Linked DNA regions of Homo sapiens: all the other regions are linked to region 2. Evidence: fine-mapped expression QTL. A gene starts in region 2. Each other region holds a variant in brackets. All regions are shown on one strand. Distances are between the middles of the regions.

Region 1 (5,149 bases), 22 kb after region 2:
TAAATCTAAACATGCATTCGCTGTATAACTGTATGTTACATTGATGATGGATATGTAAAGATATGAAGTATCACTGCAAAATAGCATGTTAGATAGGGTGGTGGTGTATGAAGTACTAAGTTCCTTGAGCAAGACTCCATCTCAAAAAAAAAAAAAAGTCAGGGTGTGGCAACAGTGTAATTGCTGGTGGCCTGACCATTTATGGCAGGATCTCAGCAGGTATGCAGAGCTACTATTCCGTGGGGAGGGAGTTGATGACAGCTAGTCAAGGTATGACAACTACATTCTAGAAGCTTAGAAAAGTTCCTGCTTTGGTAAGACTTGTTGATGGCACCTGAGCCACAGCAGTGGGGCTTAGGCTGAAGTTTCTGATCCCTGTTGTGGACCTGGGCAAGGGCCTGGTGGTGATGGGGAGCTTGCTTGGTATATGTCCAGCCTTAAAAGCTAGAAAAAGCAACGGCGGGAGCAGTGATGTCTGTGAAGCTGTATTGATAAAGTTGTTTTTTTTTAAAGGTGTAAAAGTAAACACATCTGAATCTCAGGGAAAAGCTACGCTACTTCAACTTCAGGATTCAGTCATTCCTGCTTGTTCAGAACCACAGGGTAAAATGAGCACTGCACTTACAAAGGGCTAATCACAAGCGAGGGCACTGTGGCGACCTTTCACCAGGTGTCAAGGTGTGGCGGCCTCTGTAGACCCATGACTCAGAACACCAGGCCAGGCACCATCTGGGAACACATCTGCGACTTCATATGAAAAAAAGGTGTAATTTAGTTGAAGCAATTAACTTAAAGTTGGTGAGTAAAGCCTTTTCGAATGAGCTGTGAGTGAGTGAGGGGGAGAGGATGCCCGAGGGGCAGTGTGGGGTTGCCTGCAGTGGAAGCGAGGCTGGCACTCTGCTACTGAGTGCCCAGGGAGAAGGAGGGGAGGACGCAGGCCAAGAACCTTTGGCCCCCAAGCAAGGCCTCCAAGGAAAACCAAAGGGCCGAGCTCGAGCTCCCCTTTCCTCCTGGTTTATTCTCTTTCCCTCAGGAGCCTGCCGGACTCCACCCTCAAATTCTCAGCCTGAGAAAGTAATATGATATTGGCACTCACCTCTCCAAATTCTTCCAGAAAGAGAGTCAGATTAGAGTGTGACAGGAGCACAGTACGCTTCTGGTCTGAGCTTTTGGAGGCCATATGACTCTAGAATGAGCCCGCCTGGTTTTTGTGAATGAGTCTAACTAAAATGAGTCCTCTTATTTTTTCACCAGAAAAAAACAAGATGTGTCAAGGGGCTCTTTGGGCTGTGAAAGGGCTGTATCCCAGCAACAGCTCATGATGTTTCTGACAACTTATTAGCATCTATTTGAGGGTGATTAAAAACATAATGTGGGGCCGATTGCGGTGGCTCACGCCTGTAATCCCAGCACTTTGGGAGGCCGACACGGGTGGATCATGAGGTCAGGAGTTTGAGACCAGCCTGGCCAATATAGTGAAACCCTGTCTCTACTAAAAATACAAAAAAAATAGCCTGGCATGGTGGCAGGTGCCTGTAGTCCCAGCTGATCAGGAGGCTGAGGCAGGAGAATCGCTTGAGCCCAGGAGGTGGAGGTTGCAGTGAGCCAAGATCACACCATTACACTCCTGCCTGGGTGACAGAGCGAGACTATCTCAAAAACAAAAAAAAACGAAAAAGCCATAATGTGTAAAGGATTCAAATTGTACTCAATTATTATAATAGCCTACTTCTCCCCATTCCCATTCCTCCTCCCTAAACCAGAGCTCCTGTTTGCCAGGCAAATAAGCTACAACTAAAATAAAAGGTCTTTTTAGACAAGGATCAAGCCAGATTAGGAATATTATAACTAGGCTTTCCAATCAATATCAGGACTTTCCATTTCTCTATCTGAGTCTGAAACTAATTACACTTCCAGGTCGTGGGGCCCCAGGTGCTGCTCTCGTGGCACCACTCGTGGGGCTCTAGGTCCAGAGGACAGTCTCTGCTGGCTGAGGCTGGAGGGACCATCTCATTGGTAGAAGTGGCATAGCATGACTTGGCCACTGGACATCTTGGCTGTCACCCAGACTTATTTCAAAGGCGAGACTAAAATAAAGAGGGCTGATCAGAGTGGGGGCAATCAGAGATTGGGCCATCGCTAGAGTTACAAAAGCAGCGCTGGCTACTGTAGGGCAGCAGCGTCATCTCCTCGAGATAGGACTCCCTCTGCCCCAGTTCTGTTCACCGTCCAAAGACCAGGGCCCT[C/T]CCTGAAGCCCAGCACTTGAGAAATGCTCGCTCTCACGTATTATGACTCTGGCTTTGGAAAGAAATTCAGCAAGGGTACTGGTTGAAAGGTCAAAAAGTGGTGAAATGCCATCTGCCCAAACGGAAGCAAGGGGTCGCTTGGATTGGGTAAAGGTTTCTTTTGTGGTTTTAAGCCGTTGGGTTGTTTTTCGTTTGTTTTTGTTTTGTTAGAAAGCACTGTGTCTGTCTGGAGGTCGAAGGGTCGGGTGGGTGTCTGCAGTGCGGCTTTTCTCCCTTGGCCAGTGGGGAAACAAAGTGGGTTTACTGGCCATTTCCGCTTTGTGTGAAGGAAACCTGAGATTCACTGCCTCCAGCACATGGGAGTTGTCTGTTATTTTTAGTTTAGTTCTGTTGTTGTTATTAGGTGTTTTTAAAACATATGTAAGTGTGTATCAAAGTTGTATTTCACAGTGTTGGCAGAAAATTTACAGGAAAAAGACAGAGGAGGGTTTAGTTGAAGATCAGGAGGAGGTAGTAAGACTGGTTAAATGTCTAGTGAAAGGTTTTAGGCATACCAGGATTGTCAGTCAACTGGGAGGGTAACTCTTTTATTTTTAAAATTGTGGTAAAATATGTATAAAATAACATATACTATTTTAACGATTTTTAAGTAGGCCTGGGCACAGTGGCTGACACCTGTAATCCCAAGCTTTGGGAGGCTGAGATGGGAGGATCATTGGAGGCCAGGAGTTTGAAACCAGCTTGGCCAACATAGCAACTTCATCTCTAAAAAAATAAAAATAAAAATAAAAGGTTTTTTTTTTTTTAATTATCTGGGCATCGTGGCACACTGGGCAAGTAGTTCCAGCTCCTTGGGAGGCCGAGGCAGGAAGATCACTTGAGCCTAGGAGTTCAATGCTATAGTGAGCTCTGATCACACCGCTGCCCTCCAGCCTGTGTGACAGAGCAAGAACCTGTCTCTAAAAAAATAACAATTTTAAAATGCTCAAGTGAACAGTTCTGTGCCATTAAGTGCACTCACATTTTTGTGCCACCATCACCACCATTCATCTACAGAAACTTTCTTTCTTTCCCAACTGAAACTCTGTCCCCATTGAACACTAACGCCCCATCCTGCCCTGCCAGCCACTGGTGGCCACCGTTCTGCTGTCTCTGAATTTGACTATTCGTAGTACCTCATATGAGTGGAATCGTAGAGAGAGTAGTCGTCCTTTGTGACTAGCTCATTTCCCTTAGCGCAACGCCTTCAAAGTTTATTCACGTGGGTAATTCGTTCTTTACGGTTTGTTTTTCATCGTTTGGACCCTCAGTTTTTGTTTCTTGTTGAGGATTTGGTAGTCTCAGATACTGAGGATAGGATTGCAGGCTGAAAGTCTGGCCAGGAGGCTTCCTGATCCTTCTCCTCACCCTAAAATATCTTGGCCACACTGGATATATATTTTTTTCTTTTTGAGATGGAACCTCCCTCTGTTGCCCAGGCTGGAGTGCACTGGCGCAATCATGGCTCACTGCGGCCTCAACCTCCCAGGCTCAAGTGATCTTCCTGCCTCACCCTCCCAAGTATCTGGGACTACAGGCATGCACCACCATATCTGGCTAATTTTTTTTTTACTTCTTGGGAGAGATGGGGGTCTCACTTTGTTGCCCAGCCTGGTCGTGAGCTCCTGGCCTCAAGCGATGCTCCCTCCTCAACCTCCCAAAGTGCTGGGAGTACAGGCATGAGCCACCACGCCTGGCCCACACTGGACATTTCTTAGTGTTTTTTCCTGCCTGGGTCACTACCTACTTGGTGTGTTAATAGCTCTCAAGGCTCTTAGCTTGGCCCACATTGCTTGCTCCTCTGGGCAAACCATGAATATTTCCAAAGCAGACCAGCCTCTCAGGGGACTCTCTGTCTCTGTCTGTCTCTCTCTGCCTCTGTCTCTGTCCGTCTCTGTCTCTCTCTCTCCCTGTTTCCATCTCTGTGTGTCTCTGTCTCTCTGTGTGTGTGTGTCTCCATCTCTGTCTCTGTCTCTCTCTGCCTTTCTCTCCTCCCTCCTCTCAGCATCAGTATTTACCCACTGGCCTCAGGCAAAGGCTTCAGAGAAGGGAAAGCAGCCTTTTCTTTCCCCTTCCCGTCCTCTCAGGCACAGGAGGCATGCCTTCTGTTTGCTTGTTTTTATAATCATTCTTTGTAAGCAGAACATTCAAATGGCAAAATATATAAGCAGTAAGAACGTGCAATGAAAAACCAGTCTCCCCACCCACTTCCTTGTTGCCTTTTGCCACACCAGCCACTGTGACCTTGACTGTCTTTCTAGGGACATTTACACATAAACAAGCTCAGGGGGCCTCTTTTTACACAAAAGATATCATCTTATACCCACCCCCCTGTATCATGCTTTTTGGAAAAAATACATAAAAATAAGAGTGTAATAAATGAAGTCTCCACCAACCAGAATTGATAAAAAACATTTAGTATAGCTGTTTTTTTTCTTTTTTTACATAAAAATAAGTAAAATGCTACAGATGAAGTCTGAAATATTCTGTGGCCTTTGTGGTCAGTCCTGCATCCTTCCTCCCATCCTTAGAGGGGAGCGCTACTGGAAATTATTTACACCCTTTCTGTAATTTTTTATATGTCATATACATACATATATACATCTGTGAACAATATATAGCATCATTTTGCACAATAATCATTTTTAATATCCCTTCCCCCTACTGGCAGGCATTCAGGTTCTTTTAGACTTTGCTCCTCAAATAATGCCGCAGGAAATTTCTTGTGCCGATATCTTTGTGCACATGCGTGAGTGTATCTGTAGGATAATTTTGTAGAGGCGGGCTTACTGGATCAAAAGATATGTGCATTTGATAGTTTCAAAGAAAGGGCACCAATTTTTACTTCCACCAATAATGCATGG
Region 2 (5,149 bases):
TACAGACAATACCTAAACGACTGCATATGGCTATGTTCTAATAAAAACTTTTTTCTTCCTCTTTTTTTTAAGACGGAGTTTCGCTCTTGTTGTCCAGACTGGAGTGCAATGGTGCAATCTTGGCTCACTGCAACCTCTACCTCCCGGGTTTAAACGATTCTCCTGCCTCAGCCTCCCGGGCAGCTGGGATAACAAGAGTGCGCCACCACACCCGGCTAATTTTTGTAGTTTTAATAGGGACGGGGTTTCACCATGTTGGCCAAGCTGGTCTCAAACTCCTGATCTCAGGTTATCTGCCCGCCTCGACCTCCCAAAGTGCTGGGATTACCAGCGTGAGCGATCGCACCAGGCCTAATCAAATCTTTATTTACAAAAAGAGGCAACTGGCAGGACTGGGCCTGCAGGCTTTAAAATCTGTCAATCCCTGAAATAAAGAATAAAACAAAATTATTTTCATTTTAGGAAACAAAATGTGATTTATACTAAAAAAAAAAAGTGCACCAGCTAAATTGATACTATTGATAGAAAAAACCATTTATTTATAAATTCATACAAGGAGCCTAGGGATAGAAAAAAAAAACAAACTCTCTTTTAGGCTCTGGAAATCCTACTCCCATTCCTAGTGTCAAGTGAAAAGAGGAAATCTGCTAAGCAGACCAAAGTCTAGATAGGAACGTATACTGGAGGACAGACAGTTACAATCAGAAGTTAAAAGAAATATGCCTTTCACATTTAATTTGCAATTTTTTCAAATTTCATAATTCACCAACAAGCAGCTGCCACATGTGTGGAAATCTTTACTGATGAAATAATTTTAGTTGCAGATCATCACAATCAACACTCTGACAACAAATTTATCAGAACGGATGAAAACATCTAGGAATTACCTAAGAGTCGTTTAAGGAGACATAAGGGTGGCCTTTGATAAGAGGTCACTTCAAACTTTCAGAACTGACAAGACGTATAGCCTCCCCCCAAAAAATAATGCTATGGGTAGATGGATGCTTTTTTCTGAAGGAATTTTTAGCATTTCATTTGGAAAAGTTCTGTGATCAAATAATGCTAAATGTTATGACAGCTTTCTTGGCGTTTAAAGGGATTCTCTGGGTGAGGGGAAGGGGTGATAAAAAAAAAAAAAGTCTGCTTTTGGAACAGAAATGGGGGACAATAACCAAGGCTCAGAAACCCAGAGTCAAAAAATTAAAAGAACATCTTATTTTAAAAAAAAAGTCAACAACCTGCAATGAAGTCACCGTACCCCCATAAAATCCCAACTGTGCATTTAAATCTTTCTACCAAAATTCACTTTTGGACCATCTTATGAAGTTGTCAAAATTTCAGAGGCAAACGCTTAAATCAAGATCAAAAGCCAGGAGGAAAAAAGAGCTAACAGTTTCCAACCCAAACTCTCTCCGAGCCCCCTAAAAACTGATTTATAACCCTGTCATCGGTAATTTTAGAAGAAGCGAACACTGACGGACGGGGGCTTGGGAAAACAGGACTCCAGGTACCAAGCAGGCTGCCTGACGCGCCACCTGAAAAAGGTGAGGGAACTCTTCCCCACCCCAGTCACTGTGAAAGTAGCGCTGAGAGAGCCCATCCCAAGCCTCCACCAAACAAATTCCTAGAAGTGATAAAAACAGACAAGAGACGAAGAGGGGCGGGCAGATCCTCTCCGCGGGCAGGGAGCTGGAGCAACTGCACCCGAAGGTGAGCAGAGGGCAGCAGGCTCCGACCCTCCGCCGCGAAAGGCGAGGCGAGGGGAACAGCGGGCGCCGGACTCCTCCGACAGCGGTCGCAAGGAGGGCGGCTCCAGGTCCCCACACGGCCGACCCTCAGGCCAAGGCGCGCCGGGCGGCAGGTCAGAGTTAGGAATCAAGTTGCGGGCCGGGCCGAGAGCGCGCTCTCCCGCCCGCGCCAGGGACATTCGCCCCTCAGCTCTCACCTCCCCCCGACCCCAAGCTCTCCCTCTGCGCCCAGGAAACGGCGCCCACACTCCAGAGACCCTCACCCGGAGCCCGTCGCCGCCTCACCGCGTGTCTCGGACTTCTTGGGAGCCACCGCTGAGGGGAGGGGGGAGGAGGGGGGAACGGAGGAGGGAGGGGGCCAAGCCCGGTGTAGCCGCCGCCGCTGCCGCCGCCGCGATGCCGCTTCTGGAATCGCGCTCTCGCCGCCGCGACAGCGACCGCCGCCGCCGCGTCTCCCCGCCCCCACGACCGCACGTCGCCGTGACGCGCATCGCACGAGGCGGTTCGAGCCAATAAGACCACACGCCGTGCGCAGCCGCGCTGTCCTAAACCGGAAGCCGCCCCTCTGACCGCTCTAAAACCTGGGTGCATCGTGGGAGCTGTGGTTCGGCCAGGAACTTAGCGAAAACTATACTGGGTGTTGAGGGCCGGAGGAGCGTGCGCTCCTTAGGCGCTCACACAACTCCTCGGAGTTTTTTCTCCCACCGAAAAAGGAAGCAATTTGGAGCTGAGGAGGAGGGGGCCGCCCCGGCTCGCGGATGCTTTTCGCAGTCTCTATGGATACTGGCTACACACTTTGGGCAAGAGCCAGAATTTGAGGATTTAGGCTGGATCGTGTGTCTCTGCCAAGGGCTGATAGGATGCTGAGCGTCGTCTGTGAAGACTGCGGAAAGAAATCCAAAAGCATTAGCCCAGTTTTGCCCAGAGCAATAGTGTTTGCCTTTTATTACCTTATTAAAGATTATGATTTATGCTCTACCACTTCTATTTTTTTTAAAACCCAGTCACTCTTAAAATACATATAATTCAGAGCGATTTTTAAAATGATGTTAATGTAATGGTATATCAGAACCTACTTAAGCACTAAATACCTGCGTCCATTTACCCAGAATGAGTAAGTAATTTTCCACAAGTCATCTTTACGTTGAGTTCTAACTTCTTAGAAGCCAAGAACAGATTTGGTTACGTACTTATTCTATAAGAAAAGTGAATATAAGAGTTAGTCTGCGTAGAAAAATAGTTCTTTACATTCAGTAGGAGGGGGAATTTATCACATTCTTAAGGCGTAAATGCCTTAACTATCAAAATTCTTGTTATTGACTAAAGGAAATCCATACGATTTAGGGAAAGTCTGTGCCCACGGCTTACTGTCCTTACCTTTGGACCACAGCAAGAGATAACAAAGGGTGCAGGGAAAAGCTGACAGGTCTTGAGGGAGCTGGAGTCGGATATATGACGAAAAAAACAAAAATACAGAAGTCTTCATTATGGAAATGTAAGTTTTAAAAAGTAAAGCTACTAAAATCACAAAGAACATGATTAAGATGGCAATAATACAGAACTAAGGCCCACTCATTTAAGCTTGAAAGAGATAAAACTAGTAGAAATTAAAATTAGGAAATAAATGTTAAAGGAACTAATTTCCTCCAAGGAGTGGTTTACATTGAAAATATAATTTTTTTAAGTTTACATAATTTGTGAAAGACATAATAATAATGACTTCTATGTTCCCAGGTAAAGATGTAAAGCTTTTGAGGTTGAAATCAAGGAAGACAATTGTACACCTCCTCAGCACATCAGAAACAATACAGGCATTTCTGGATTGTGAATTTGACCCGTTATACCAACTCACATAGAACAGAGATAAGAAGTATAAGATTCTTAGGCTTAATAAAGAGTCTACTAAAGGTGACAGAACTAGAGCGAAAAAGATAATTTTCTTAAAAAGAGATTCTTCAAAGATCTCCAATCTTTCCTGCATCCCTTTCTCTTAAAGACTGGTTTCCAGGCCAAGCGTGGTGGCTCACACCTGTAATCCTAGCACTTTGGGAGGCCGAGATGGGCAGATCACTTGAGGTCAGGAGTTCAAAACCAGCCTGGCCAACATGGCGAAACCCCGTCTCTACAAAAATACAAAAAATTAGCCAAGCATGGTCGCGCGTGCCTGTAATCCCAGGTACTCTGGAGGCTGAGGCAGGAGAATCACTTGAACCTGAGAGGCAGAGGTTGCAGTGAGCTGAGACCGTGCCACTGCACTCCAGCCTGTGTGACAGAGCAAGACTCTGTCTCAAAAAAAAAAAAAAAAAAGATTCTGGTTTGACAAAACGAAGGGCTTTAAGAAGCTACCTCTGGAACAGTTCACCGTGTGCTGAACCAGATGAAAGACAGACTTACCATTTCCCTAAAGTTTCACATCTTGTTCTCGGTTACCTTGATCCCATTCACATATCACTACTGCCAGTTCCTGATGCTTATATAGTGATGAAACAAACCACATCATTTCCTCAAAATACCCACACCTCCTTAACTATTGAGGATGTTGCCACTGTCCCTGACCTGAGCACCTGAGGAACATTCCCCTGATCCCCACATCCATAAGGCTGGCTTCACCCTTAACCCTTATCTAAATGTCACCATTAAATATTCCAAAGCAGAATTTTCAGGCCCTCTCCCTGACCATACTTCAGTTACTAAACTTTATATATTGTCTTCTGATTAGCTGTCCAAAAAACAAGAAAAACTCAGTAAAATTCTCTAACCTCCAGCATCAGCTGCGTATCTTAGAATTTCTGTTCTCTCCATTCTTGGGGTATCACACTACTCCACAGGAGGGTAGAGCCCTTTATCTTCTGCAGCACCAAAAAAAGATTCCCTTCCACCCCTATCCCACATGCCAGTCACCAGTGACCCAACAGTACCCTGTGGCTCAACTAGTCTGATGTAGTCATCTCTGCAATTATCAGATGTTATTGAAAAGGATGGCGCATCACTAGGTGAGTCACATCCATAATCCAGTTGTGGCTCCAGTGACACTATAGTATATTGCTGACATGATGGACAGAGTTAAACTCCATTGTGATATCCAAGGCAATAGCCAATGAGATTCGCATATGTATCTAAGGCATGGTAGTGCGCACCTGTAGTCCCAGCTACTCCAGAGGCCAAGGCTGGAGGATCACTGGGCTCAGGAGTTCCAGGCTGCAGTGAGCTATGATGGCACCACTGCACTCCAGCCTGGGCAACAGAGTGAGACCCCATCTCTAAAAAAAAAAAAAAAAAGAAGAAGAAGAATATGTATCTAAAGCTAAAAGCAAATGAACGTTCAGCTTTAAATTTTTTTTTTTTTTCATAAAAAGAGAGTCTCACTATGTTGCCCAGGCTGGTCTCAAACTCCTGGGCTC
Region 3 (5,149 bases), 32 kb before region 2:
TGCTGTATTGTGTATAGCCCCTCTTTCATAATGACACTTGGGACTGTGATGGTATAGAGTGACTCTTAATAGTCTGCTCCCAGGAATAATATATAATACCTAATAATACCTAACAGTTGTTCAGTCATTATCTGTTAAATGAATGAATGAATACTGAAAGGAGGCAGAAAAGGGAGTGAGTTAGTAAAAATTAGCCAGGAGTGGTGGCGTACACCTGTAGTCCCAGCTACTTGGGAGGCTGTGATGGGAGGATCACTTGAGTCCAGGAAGTCGAGGCTACAGTGAGCCGTGATCGTGCCACCGCATTCCAGCCTGGGCGACAGAGTGAGACCCTGTCACCAGAAAATCAAAACAAAACAAAAAAATTAGCCAGGCATGATGGCATAGTAAAATACACATAACATAAAATTTACCATCTAAATTATCTTTAAGTGCACAGTTAATGTTACTGAGTACATTTATATTGTTGTGTGACCCTTACAACCATCTAGCTCTAGAACTCTACAACTTGCAAAACTGAAACTATACCCGTTAAACAGTAACTCTCCATTCCCTCTTCTCCTCAACCCCTGGCAATTACCATTCTTTCTGTCTCTGTGATTTGTACTACTCTAAGTACCTCATTAAAGTGGAATCATACAGTATTTGTCTTTTTGTGACTGGTTTCACTGGCCAGTTTCACTTAGTGTATTGTTCTCAAGATTCATCCAGGTTGTAGCATGTCAGAATTTCTCTCCTTTGAAAGGTGAAATAAGATTCCACTTTGTGGCCGGGTGCGGTGGCTCACATCTGTAATCCCAGCACTTTGGGAGGCCAAGGCAGGTGGATCACGAGGTCAGGAGTTCAAGACCAGCCTGGCCAACACAGTGAAACCCCGTCTCTACTAAAAATACAAAAAATTAGCTGGGCGTCGTGGCGGGCACCTGTAATCCCAGCCACTAGGGAGGCTGAGGCAGGAGAATCGCTTGAACCCGGGAGGCAGAGGTTGCGGTGAGCCAAGATCACACCATTGCACTTCAGCCCGGGCAACAGTGCAAGACTCTGTCTCCCAAAAAAAAAAAAAGATTCCATTTTGTATGTATACCAGTAACATTTTGCTTATCTGTTCCTCCATTTGGGGACAGCTGGACTACTTCCAGCATTTGTCAATAATGCTGCTATGAGCATGGGTGTAGAAATACCCCTTCAAGACCCTGCTGCTTTCAGTTCTTTTGAGTATATACCCAGAAGTAGAATTGCTGGATCACAGGGTAATTCTATTTTTAATTCTTTGAGGACTCACGTTACTGTTTTCCACGGCTTTTGGAATGATATAGTTTGTAACCTTTCAGGATTGGCTTTTTTGCAGTTTTTTTAAAATTACTTCCACTTTTGTTGTTGTTGTTTTGTTTTGTTTTGTTTTGTTTTTGAGATGGAGTCTTGCTCTGTCACCCAGACTGGAATGCAGTGACACGATCTTGGCTCACTGCAACCTCCACCTCTCGCTTCAAGCAATTCTTCCGACAGTCTCCTGAGTAACTGGGAGTACAGGCACAGGCACCCACCACCACGCCTGGCTAATTTTTTTTTTTTTTTTTTTTTTTTCAGTAGAGACGGGGTTTCACTATGTTGGCCAGGCTCCAATTCCTGACCTCAGGTGATCCACCTGCCTCAGCATCCCAAAGTGCTGGGATTACAGGCATGAGCCACTGTGCCCAGCCCTTCCACATTTTTAGAAGGAATTATTTTTGGGAAGAGCTCCTTTGGGGAGGATTATGAGACCTCATGGAACATGCGAAGGAGACAAGATCATTAAACCAGGGTAAAAATGTTCAATTAAACATGATCCATGTTCGATTCATATGCCATAGATAGCTTTGACAGGTTCTATGTCTTTAACAATCTGCTTACATTCTCTGGGCTCTAATGAGATAGGCTATGATCCAAAATGAACTTCAAGGCCACTACCTACTATATCCTAAAAAGTCATGCACAAAGAAGACATAATGGGGCATTTTAAAGAAAGGAATTTCTATATTTGTGTAACAATTTAGAGCTTGCAAAGAATTTTCACATCTCTCATCTTGTAATCCTTCCAAAAACTCTAAGGTAGATTGGATTTGACCAAGATAATAAAAGTTTAAGGAGCATTTTGGTATAATGAAAAATACTCTGCATCTACAGTCAAAGTGAGTGAGTCCAAATACAGGTTCTACCTGGACTGTCACTTAACTTCCCTAAACTAAGGACTCTCATGTCACAGAAGGAAAAGTATCATCTACCTCAATATTTGTAGAGAGGACTGCGTAGGGTACATAAAATATCTTAAACTTTAGAATGCACTCAAATAATAACTGTATCCAGGCAAGTATAAAAGTAAGATTCGAATCTGGGCCTTACTTGTGGTCACAACCATTTTTCTGCTTCCCTTTTCACAGGAAAATTTCTTAGGAGTCTATTGTCACTGTCTCCATTCCCCAACTTCATATTCTCATTCCATCCTTTACCTGATACTTCTCTACAATCTAGTTTCCATTCCCACTAAGACCACACTTGTCAAGGTCACTTACCAAATCTAGCAGACATACATCAGTTACTCCTAAATATTTATCCCTGGCCCTAAACTCTCACTGAATTCCACAGTACTACTATTACCTACCACCAAGTATGAAATCTCTACATAGATGTCTAATTGGCACCTCAAACTTAACAAAACAGAACTCATGATTGTCCCACCAAACTTGCTCTCCCCTCCAGTCTTATCCATTTCAGTAAACTGCACCACCAATCTTCTAAGTGCTCAAGTCCTAGGATTTGCCTTGATCACATGCAGTCAGCAAGTCCTGTTGATTCAATCTTCAAAACACAGCCCAAATCAACCTATTTTTCTCCACTAATTTACTCTCTGGCCCAAGCCACCACCACCTCTCACCTATACTAATACAGCAGCCTCCAGAGGTCTCCTAAATTCCACCCTTGTTACCCTTA[T/C]CCTCAGAATCCAGTCTTCACACGGCAGCGACAGTAATCTTTTTCAAAAGGCGTTCCCCCTGCTACAGCCCTCCACTGGCTTTCGTTTACACCTAGAAACTCCTTACTCTGGCTTACAAAGCCTTAAATGATTTAGACCCTGACTATCTCTGATCTCATTTTGCACCACTCTACCCCTTGCCCATTACATTCCAGCCACACTGACCTGTCTGCTCCTTAAATACTCCAAGAGCTCAAGGGGCTTTGTGTAACATGGTTCCCTATGGTAGAATGCTCATCCCTCTAATCTTTGCCATGGCTGACTCTTTTGTAGGAAGATCTCAAAGGTTACCTACTCAAAGGATCCTTCCCTGACAATGCAATGTAAAGCAACCCCTCAGTCTCTCCTTATTACATCACCTTTTAGTCTCTTTCATAGCACTTGTCTCTGATATTTTTGTTTACTACTGATCTTTTCCCACTAGACTGAAAGCTCCTGAGAGTAGAGACATTATCTGTCTTCTTTACTCTGTGAACCCTGAAAATTTGAGACAGGTCTCAGTTAATTTAGAAAGTTTATTTTGCAGGCTGGGCACAGTGGCTCACGCCTGTAATCCCAGCACTGTGGCAGGCCAAGGCAAGCGGATCAGTTGAGGTCAGGAATTCAAGACCAGCCTGGCCAACATGGTGAAACCCCATCTGTACTAAAAATACAAGAATTAGCCAGGTGTGGTGGCATGTGCCTGTAATCCCAGCTACTCAGGAGGCTGAGGGAAGAGAATCACTTGAACCCGGGAGGTGGAGGTTGCAGTGAGCCGAGATCGTGCCACTGCACTCCAGCCTGGATGACAGTGAGACTCCACCTCAAAAAAAAAAAAAAAAAAAAAAAAAAAAAAGTTTATTTTATTTTGCCTAGGTTGAGGACGCTCCCATGACACAGCCTCAGGAAGTCCTGACAACATGTGCTCAAGGTGGCCGGGGCAAAGTTTAGTTTTATACATTTCGGGGAGACTTGAGACACCGATCAATATATGTAAGAAGTACATTGGTTTGGTCTGGAAAGGCAGGACAACTTAAAGCAAAGGCAAGAAGACTCAAATCAGGGAGGGAGCTTCCAGGTTAAAGTTAGGTGAGAGACCAATGGCTGCATTTCTGATTAGCCTTTCCAAGGGAGGCAATCAGATATGTATCTATCTCAGTGAGCAGAGGGATGATTTTGAATAGAATGGAAGGCAGGTTAGCCCTAAGCAGTTCCCCACTTGACTTTTTCCTTTAGTTTAGGGATTGAGGGCCCCAAGATTTAATTTCCTTTCACAACTCCTATACAGCAGGGGTCCCCAACCCCTAGGCTACAAGCCAATTCCATAGCCTGTTAGGAACCTGGCCTCACAGCAGGAGGGGCTCAAAAGCTTCATCTGTGTTTACAGCTGCTCCCCACTGCTTGCATTACCACCTGAGCTCCGCCTCCTGTAAAATCAGCGGTGGCATTAGATTCTCATAGAAGCCTGAACCCTATTGTGATCTAGGTTGCACGCTCCTTATGAGAATCTAATGCCTGATGATCTGCCACTGTCTCCCATCACTCCCATATGGGACAGTCTAGCTGTGAAAGAACAAGCTCAGGGCTCCCACTGATTCCACATTATGGTGAGTTATATAATTATTTCATTATATATTACAATGTAGTAATAATAGAAATAAAGTGCACAATAAATGTAATGTGCTTGGATCATCCCAAAACCATCCCCTCCACCCCCTGCCCACCAGTCCATGGAAAAATTGTCTTCCATGAAACCAGTGGTATTCCCAGCACCTAAAATAGTGCCTGGCAAAAGTAAAGTGTATTCAGTAAATATCTGTCAAATAAGTCAACAGGAAACTACTATTCACACATCAAAAATAAGTCAGGGATAGAAATGTCTTTCCCTGACCTCCCCAGGCTTATGATACTAACTCCTTTATTCTTTTCATTTGTTTCTGATATAGCATATGTCACAACTTATTGCATTTATCTGTTTACATGCCTGTCTTCCCTTCTTGAACTATGAAACTTCTTAAGATGGGGAGGCCTTCTTTAGAATTCACTTTGTATCCACAACACCAAGCATGGTCTGGGATGAAAAGAGGACAGACACGGTGGCTCAAGCCTGTAATTCCAACACTTTGGGAGGCCGGGGCAGACAGATCACTTGAGGTCAGGAGG
Region 4 (5,149 bases), 93 kb before region 2:
CCTCCCTTACCCCTATGTTTTAAACATTTATATAAAGTCTTATTTAAACAGTTAGAAATCTTATTTACATTAATTTCTTTGTTCTCCCAAAAGAGCATTTAAAATCACACTCCCACCCCTTATCGGATATAAATGTTCACTTAAATTGGTTTGTATTATTGTCATAGAGAGAGAGAAAGGGAGAAGAAAGAACCACCAGCTAAACTGTTTCGCCATCTTCTACAAATAAATATGATATGGATCAGAAGCCAGTTTGCCAAGGGTCTTGCAGAGCCCGCAATCAGTAGATCCCAAGAATAAGCCAGGGTTTGGGCTATGTCTCCTTTTCTCCCAATTGATGCACTCCATCCTTTGAGGTATGATTTATTTTTGTTTTTCTCTTCTCAGTCATGTACCACGCAGAGCCACTGGGCCGTCACAAAGCCCACGAGGCTGTCAAAGTTTTGGGGCTCCTCTGGTACTGGCATCAGTAGCCAGCAGGGAGGCCCGCAAGTGCCGCAGGCCCTGGTTTAGGGTCATAGTCCCTGGAGACTGGTAGGTATCACAGTGCATCCTCTTCACTGCAGCCCCCGCCGATCATGAAACGAAACTCCTGGAGGTTTGAGACACCATGGAAGTGAACAAAAGCTCCAGCAACCACAAAGATATGAAACAGCTGATGAGAGTGAAACTGGAGGGGAAAAAAGAAGAGAAGGGGGTAGAGAAACCCATACATTATTAAGACTGCTAAAGATTCTTAGGATCGTTTAATCCTGGTTTATGCTGAGCAGAAGGCAGGGAATGGATGTGACAGAGCTCAAATTCAAGGCGTCCACAGATCCTGGAACATCCATTAGGTGTAACACATTCTGCTGAGCTGAAAGCCAGCTGTTCCCAAAGAAACCAAGGTGCTGCCACTAAGCTCTACACATAAAAATCTACAAACTTAACACTGAAACCAGTGGCAAATGACACACAGACTCTCTTGCTAAAGTGGCAAATGACACACAGACTCTCTTGCTAACAGGCCACAAAGGTCCCAAGGATCCCTTGACACCTAGCCATGGGCTATGATTACACATACAGTCCTTTTCCTACTCACTGCTGATGGACATTTTGTCATGGACAAGAGGACTAGAGCTATGGTCATTTAAATGTTGCTCTCTGTTAGAAAAACTAAAGAGGCTTCCAGGATGGTGTGTGGAATGTCACAACATATGGTCCCCAGAGTTTCCTTCAGTGCTACGATTCTCAAATTTCATGAACTACATAATGTGTCAAAAACTAAGCAAACAGGCCCTTTTACTTCTCAAGTCAGAAGCTGGTCTACAAGCAAGTGACATTATTTCTGATTTTACCTGTTCTGTTGAATGCTATTCCACATCTCAAGAAGGGTAATCAATTGCTCGCTGCACTTCAAAAATTACACTATTCTGTCATTATAATCTCAAAATGAAAAAGTACAGTGGCAAAGCAGTATTTATCAAGAGAAAAACACTGATTTTAGAAGCAAAAACTAGAAGAAATCAAGTCACATCCCAAGAGATGTTTCCTAGGAAACCAAAGGGGATTAATTTCCCCCAAAGAAAGGGGATAAAGGGCAAAAACCCCTCCATACCAATGTTAAAATGATGATGATGAATCAGAAAGATAAATTAGCTAATTTGAAGCTAGAAAGATTGCTTAAGTTCAAGATCATCTTCATTTTACAGATAGCTAAACTAAACTTTAAAGAGATGAGATCATCAGGTTAGTCTATAATAATCAGCAATAGGCTGAGGAACAGAATTACAAAGGTCAGATTTCACATTAAGCGTATTTCCAATGTTGTCTTGTTGAAAATATTTCAGGCCCTCTTTGGTTATAAGTTTTTCTATCTATATCAGTCCTTATATTTTCTTTTCCCTCTTCTCTTTCCTCCTCTCTTACCAATGACCACAATCCAGTTCAATCCAGTTCCCTCTTCTTCACAATCCCTCTTCTTCCACCAGACATACATACACTCAGTCTCCCATTACAAATCACTAAATTTCGGTATAAAAAAAGACCCTGATAGAAATCTGGTCCTAAAAAGGGCTCTGGTGAAAATCTGGTCTATCATCCTCATTTCATAAATAAGGAAACTGAGACAAAGAATGGCAAAATGACTTGCCATTGTCAAAAAGAGCACAGATTCTGATATTAAAACTAGCCTAATTCAAATTCCTGTTCTACCACTTAAATAGCCACATGGCTTGGACAAGTGGCCTCACCTCCCTAAGCCTTAGTCTCCTGCTTTGTAAAATGAAGACATTAACAAGAGTTATCATACCACATAGGGCTAATGTATGTAATGAGGTAATCCGTGCAAAGCACTCTGTACCATGCTGAGCACCAAGGAAGTGCTCACTAAATGTTAGTTATTATTGTACTTATTGTCCAGAGAAAGCTCAATAGGGAGTTAGGACCAGGATACAACTCTCCTGACTTTGTGTCTAAAACTTTTTCTATTGCATCACTCTGCAGGATGCCAATAACTCATGAGCAGATACCTACACACTCAGTCACCCCGACATACTTACCCAGATGTCACATTTGCCAGGGAAAAAGCGTTCGGGGATCCGGGCAGCATACAGGGCAGCTCCTGTGATGTAGAGGCTGGCCATCAGCATCAACCAGCCTATCTGCCCTATGGTGGCGGCCTTAAGGAACCCCTCCGAGATGACATAGTGCAAGGTAGGAATGATTCCACTCAGGCCTAGGCCCAAAAACACTCCTAGGAGTCACAAGAAGAGAGTAAAGTAATGCAGAAGAGAAACAAAGAGCCAGAAGTCAGTATTACAGCACAGCACCATTAACTCTGTAAACTGAATATTTCAAAGTAGCATATAAAATTAGCTTCCAGTTTTAAAGGAAAAAGAAGGTTCTTCAAACTCTGGGACACTGTCACACAAGACAACACAGCTATGTTCTAAAGATTTACAAATGCAAGGAGCCAGCCGGGT[G/A]CAGTGGCTCACACCTGTAATCCCAGCACTTTGGGACCAGCCTGGCTAACAGGGTGAAACCCCATTTCTACTAAACATCCAAAAAGTAGCCAGGCGTGGTAGCGCACTCCTGTAATCCCAGCTACTCGGGAGGCTGAGGCAGGAGAATCACCTGAAGCCGGGGGCAGAGGCTGCAGTGAGCCGAGATCACGCCATTGCACCCCAGCTTGGGCAACAGGAGTGAAACTCCGTCTCAAAAAAAAAAAAAAAAAGCAATGAGCCTCACTAAGAGAGGCTTAGCTTAGTAAGTCAGCAGTCTTCAAGGGTTTTGAATTAATGTTGCTAAATGTTTTCGGAAAGGACAGCTCCAGGAGTTTATTTAAACTGTCCTAGCCTGTCCTTCTACAGACACAGGTTACAATACAAGCAATTTTACGTATCCCATCTTCTCTTTGAAGCAGCAGGCGTTGTTGGGGTGGAGAGGCGATGAATGATCACATCACCTGGCATCACCTATTTTTAATAGGAATCTAAGGCTGGGCGCAGTGGCTCAGCTCACACCTGTAATCCCAGCACTTTGGGAGGCCGAGGCAGGCAGATCACTTGAGGTCAGGAGCCAAGATGGCACCACTGCACTCCAGCCTGGGCTACAAAGCAAGACTCCATCTCAAAAAAAAAAAAAAAAAAAAAAAAAAGAAAGAAAGAAAGAAAAAGAAAAGAAAAGAAAAAAGAAGAAAAAATTTAATCTAAATCTATAACCTATAACTGGGCACTTAAAAATTGTTAAATGCCTTTAACAAATGACCTAATGGGGGTGGGGGATGGGAGAGAATACTATAAGCTCCCAGACCCCTAAATAGCAATCAAGTACAAAAGTCTAGCAAATCACTCAGCCACAGCCCTACTGCCTTACTGCCTCCAGAAGCATCTAATGTTTTTTTAAACTTCTGGATATGACCTAAGTTCTAAGATCAATTAAATGAGTCTCAACCAGCATTTTTTTAAATGAACTAGAATAAAATTTAAAATATCAGACTGTAACATACGTGGAGGATTAAATACTATTTTGTTAAAGTTTTGTAATTTATATATACATGAACTTATGTATAGATACACGTGTTCAGGACTGTAATAGAAAATGTCATGATGGAAAAAAAAATGTGAAGTCCACTGATCTAAATCCACTTTGAAACCCGTGTATCAGCCAAAGCAACACAGGAGCTCCCTGCCTCTGCCAGTAACTGCTCCTACATTTTGACACAGAGTTAACAATGACCCTTGCAAAACAAGCTGTCATTTGGTAAGCTTTCTCAACAGATAAAGAACCTATTACTTGCTTTGGACATTACCAAATAAACTGCTGGTATACAGCAATATATGTAAGCACAGCTATGGGATGCATACTCACAAATAAAATGGACATCTAAAAGAGAAGAGGAAAATGGCAATGCTGCTCTCACAACAGGTAAGAACCAAGCAGACCTAAAGAAAAACTATTTCCTACCTCTGCTCCTCTAAGGAAAGATTTGCTAGACTTTTGCACTATTCACTTTTTCTTTTCCTCTACATGCTAAGCAAAGGCTGCTAATGGTTTCTGCCTATCATTCTCTAAGTCAAAGGCTCAGGAATTTGGTTCTTCTGATGTATGTAAATAACAGAATGCTCAGCTGTACTCAGCAAAGACATTCTTATCTCATGTGCTCAAGCAGGCTTAACACCACTGTACTACTCAAGTACTGTTGAAAGCTGACCCTGACCAATGCTCATTTGCTCATATGAACACAAAAAGGAGGACGGCAGAGTGTTTTAACAGTGGTCACTGACATGAGGTTACTTCTGTGTCTAACCTTCCAGGTACCCCCGGATGATCCAGGGTTTAGATTTTAATACTAAATGGTTTTGGGGGTTTAAGGACGAAAGGAAAAACACTCCTTGTTCATTCTCAGTGGGCACTGAGCTTGACACTGAGTAGGAGACAAGAACATCTCTGCTAATTCCATGTCCTACAAGAAGACTCAGCCAAGGCACTGAGGGGCTTGTGGCTTTCTCTATGATCTCCAGCTAAACAGGCATTATCCTAAATATAAAAAGCCCCTTTATCCCTACATCAGAAGGGAGATATGGTGCCCACTTTAACAAAACATAATCAGCATGGGGGTGAAGCCTTAAGCAGATTATCCATTATAAAATAAAAATATAAAACAAAA

Direction of the effects. Positions count from the first base shown, and alleles are read on the strand shown. Sizes are in standard deviations (SD) of each study's normalised expression. Not every link is listed here.
With allele C in place of T in region 1, the expression in subcutaneous fat of the gene that starts at base 2,155 in region 2 is higher (small effect, 0.27 SD a copy in FUSION).
With allele T in place of C in region 3, the expression in skeletal muscle of the gene that starts at base 2,155 in region 2 is lower (moderate effect, 0.42 SD a copy in FUSION).

What was found. PIP is the estimated chance that this variant, and not a neighbour inherited with it, causes the effect. A credible set is the group of variants that fine-mapping cannot tell apart.
Region 1: its variant is the best candidate, but not a certain one, in a credible set for the expression of ADIPOR2 in subcutaneous fat (FUSION, PIP 0.85).
Region 3: its variant is the best candidate, but not a certain one, in a credible set for the expression of ADIPOR2 in skeletal muscle (FUSION, PIP 0.68).
Region 4: its variant is the best candidate, but not a certain one, in a credible set for the expression of ADIPOR2 in whole blood (TOPMed, PIP 0.58).

What each region holds. Positions count from the first base shown.
Region 1 is chr12:1,666,224-1,671,372 of GRCh38, reverse strand. No RefSeq gene overlaps it. Among named protein-coding and RNA genes, the nearest start is that of MIR3649, 8.4 kb to the right of the region's middle. RefSeq lists an enhancer at 2,210-2,259. The variant C/T (reference allele first, on the strand shown) is at 2,247.
Region 2 is chr12:1,688,076-1,693,224 of GRCh38, reverse strand. ADIPOR2 (adiponectin receptor 2) reads right to left here and starts at 2,155. Exons shown (of 8, transcript NM_024551.3): 1 at 2,034-2,155. RefSeq lists silencers at 1,853-1,942, 1,963-2,262 and enhancers at 1,761-2,339, 2,423-2,472, 2,493-2,652.
Region 3 is chr12:1,719,899-1,725,047 of GRCh38, reverse strand. The region is part of intron 1 of ADIPOR2 (adiponectin receptor 2); the gene reads right to left. Among named protein-coding and RNA genes, the nearest start is that of ADIPOR2, 31 kb to the right of the region's middle. The variant T/C (reference allele first, on the strand shown) is at 2,968.
Region 4 is chr12:1,781,465-1,786,613 of GRCh38, reverse strand. ADIPOR2 (adiponectin receptor 2) reads right to left here. Exons shown (of 8, transcript NM_024551.3): 7 at 2,541-2,734; 8 at 1-670. The coding sequence ends at 542. Among named protein-coding and RNA genes, the nearest start is that of LRTM2, 37 kb to the left of the region's middle. The variant G/A (reference allele first, on the strand shown) is at 2,964.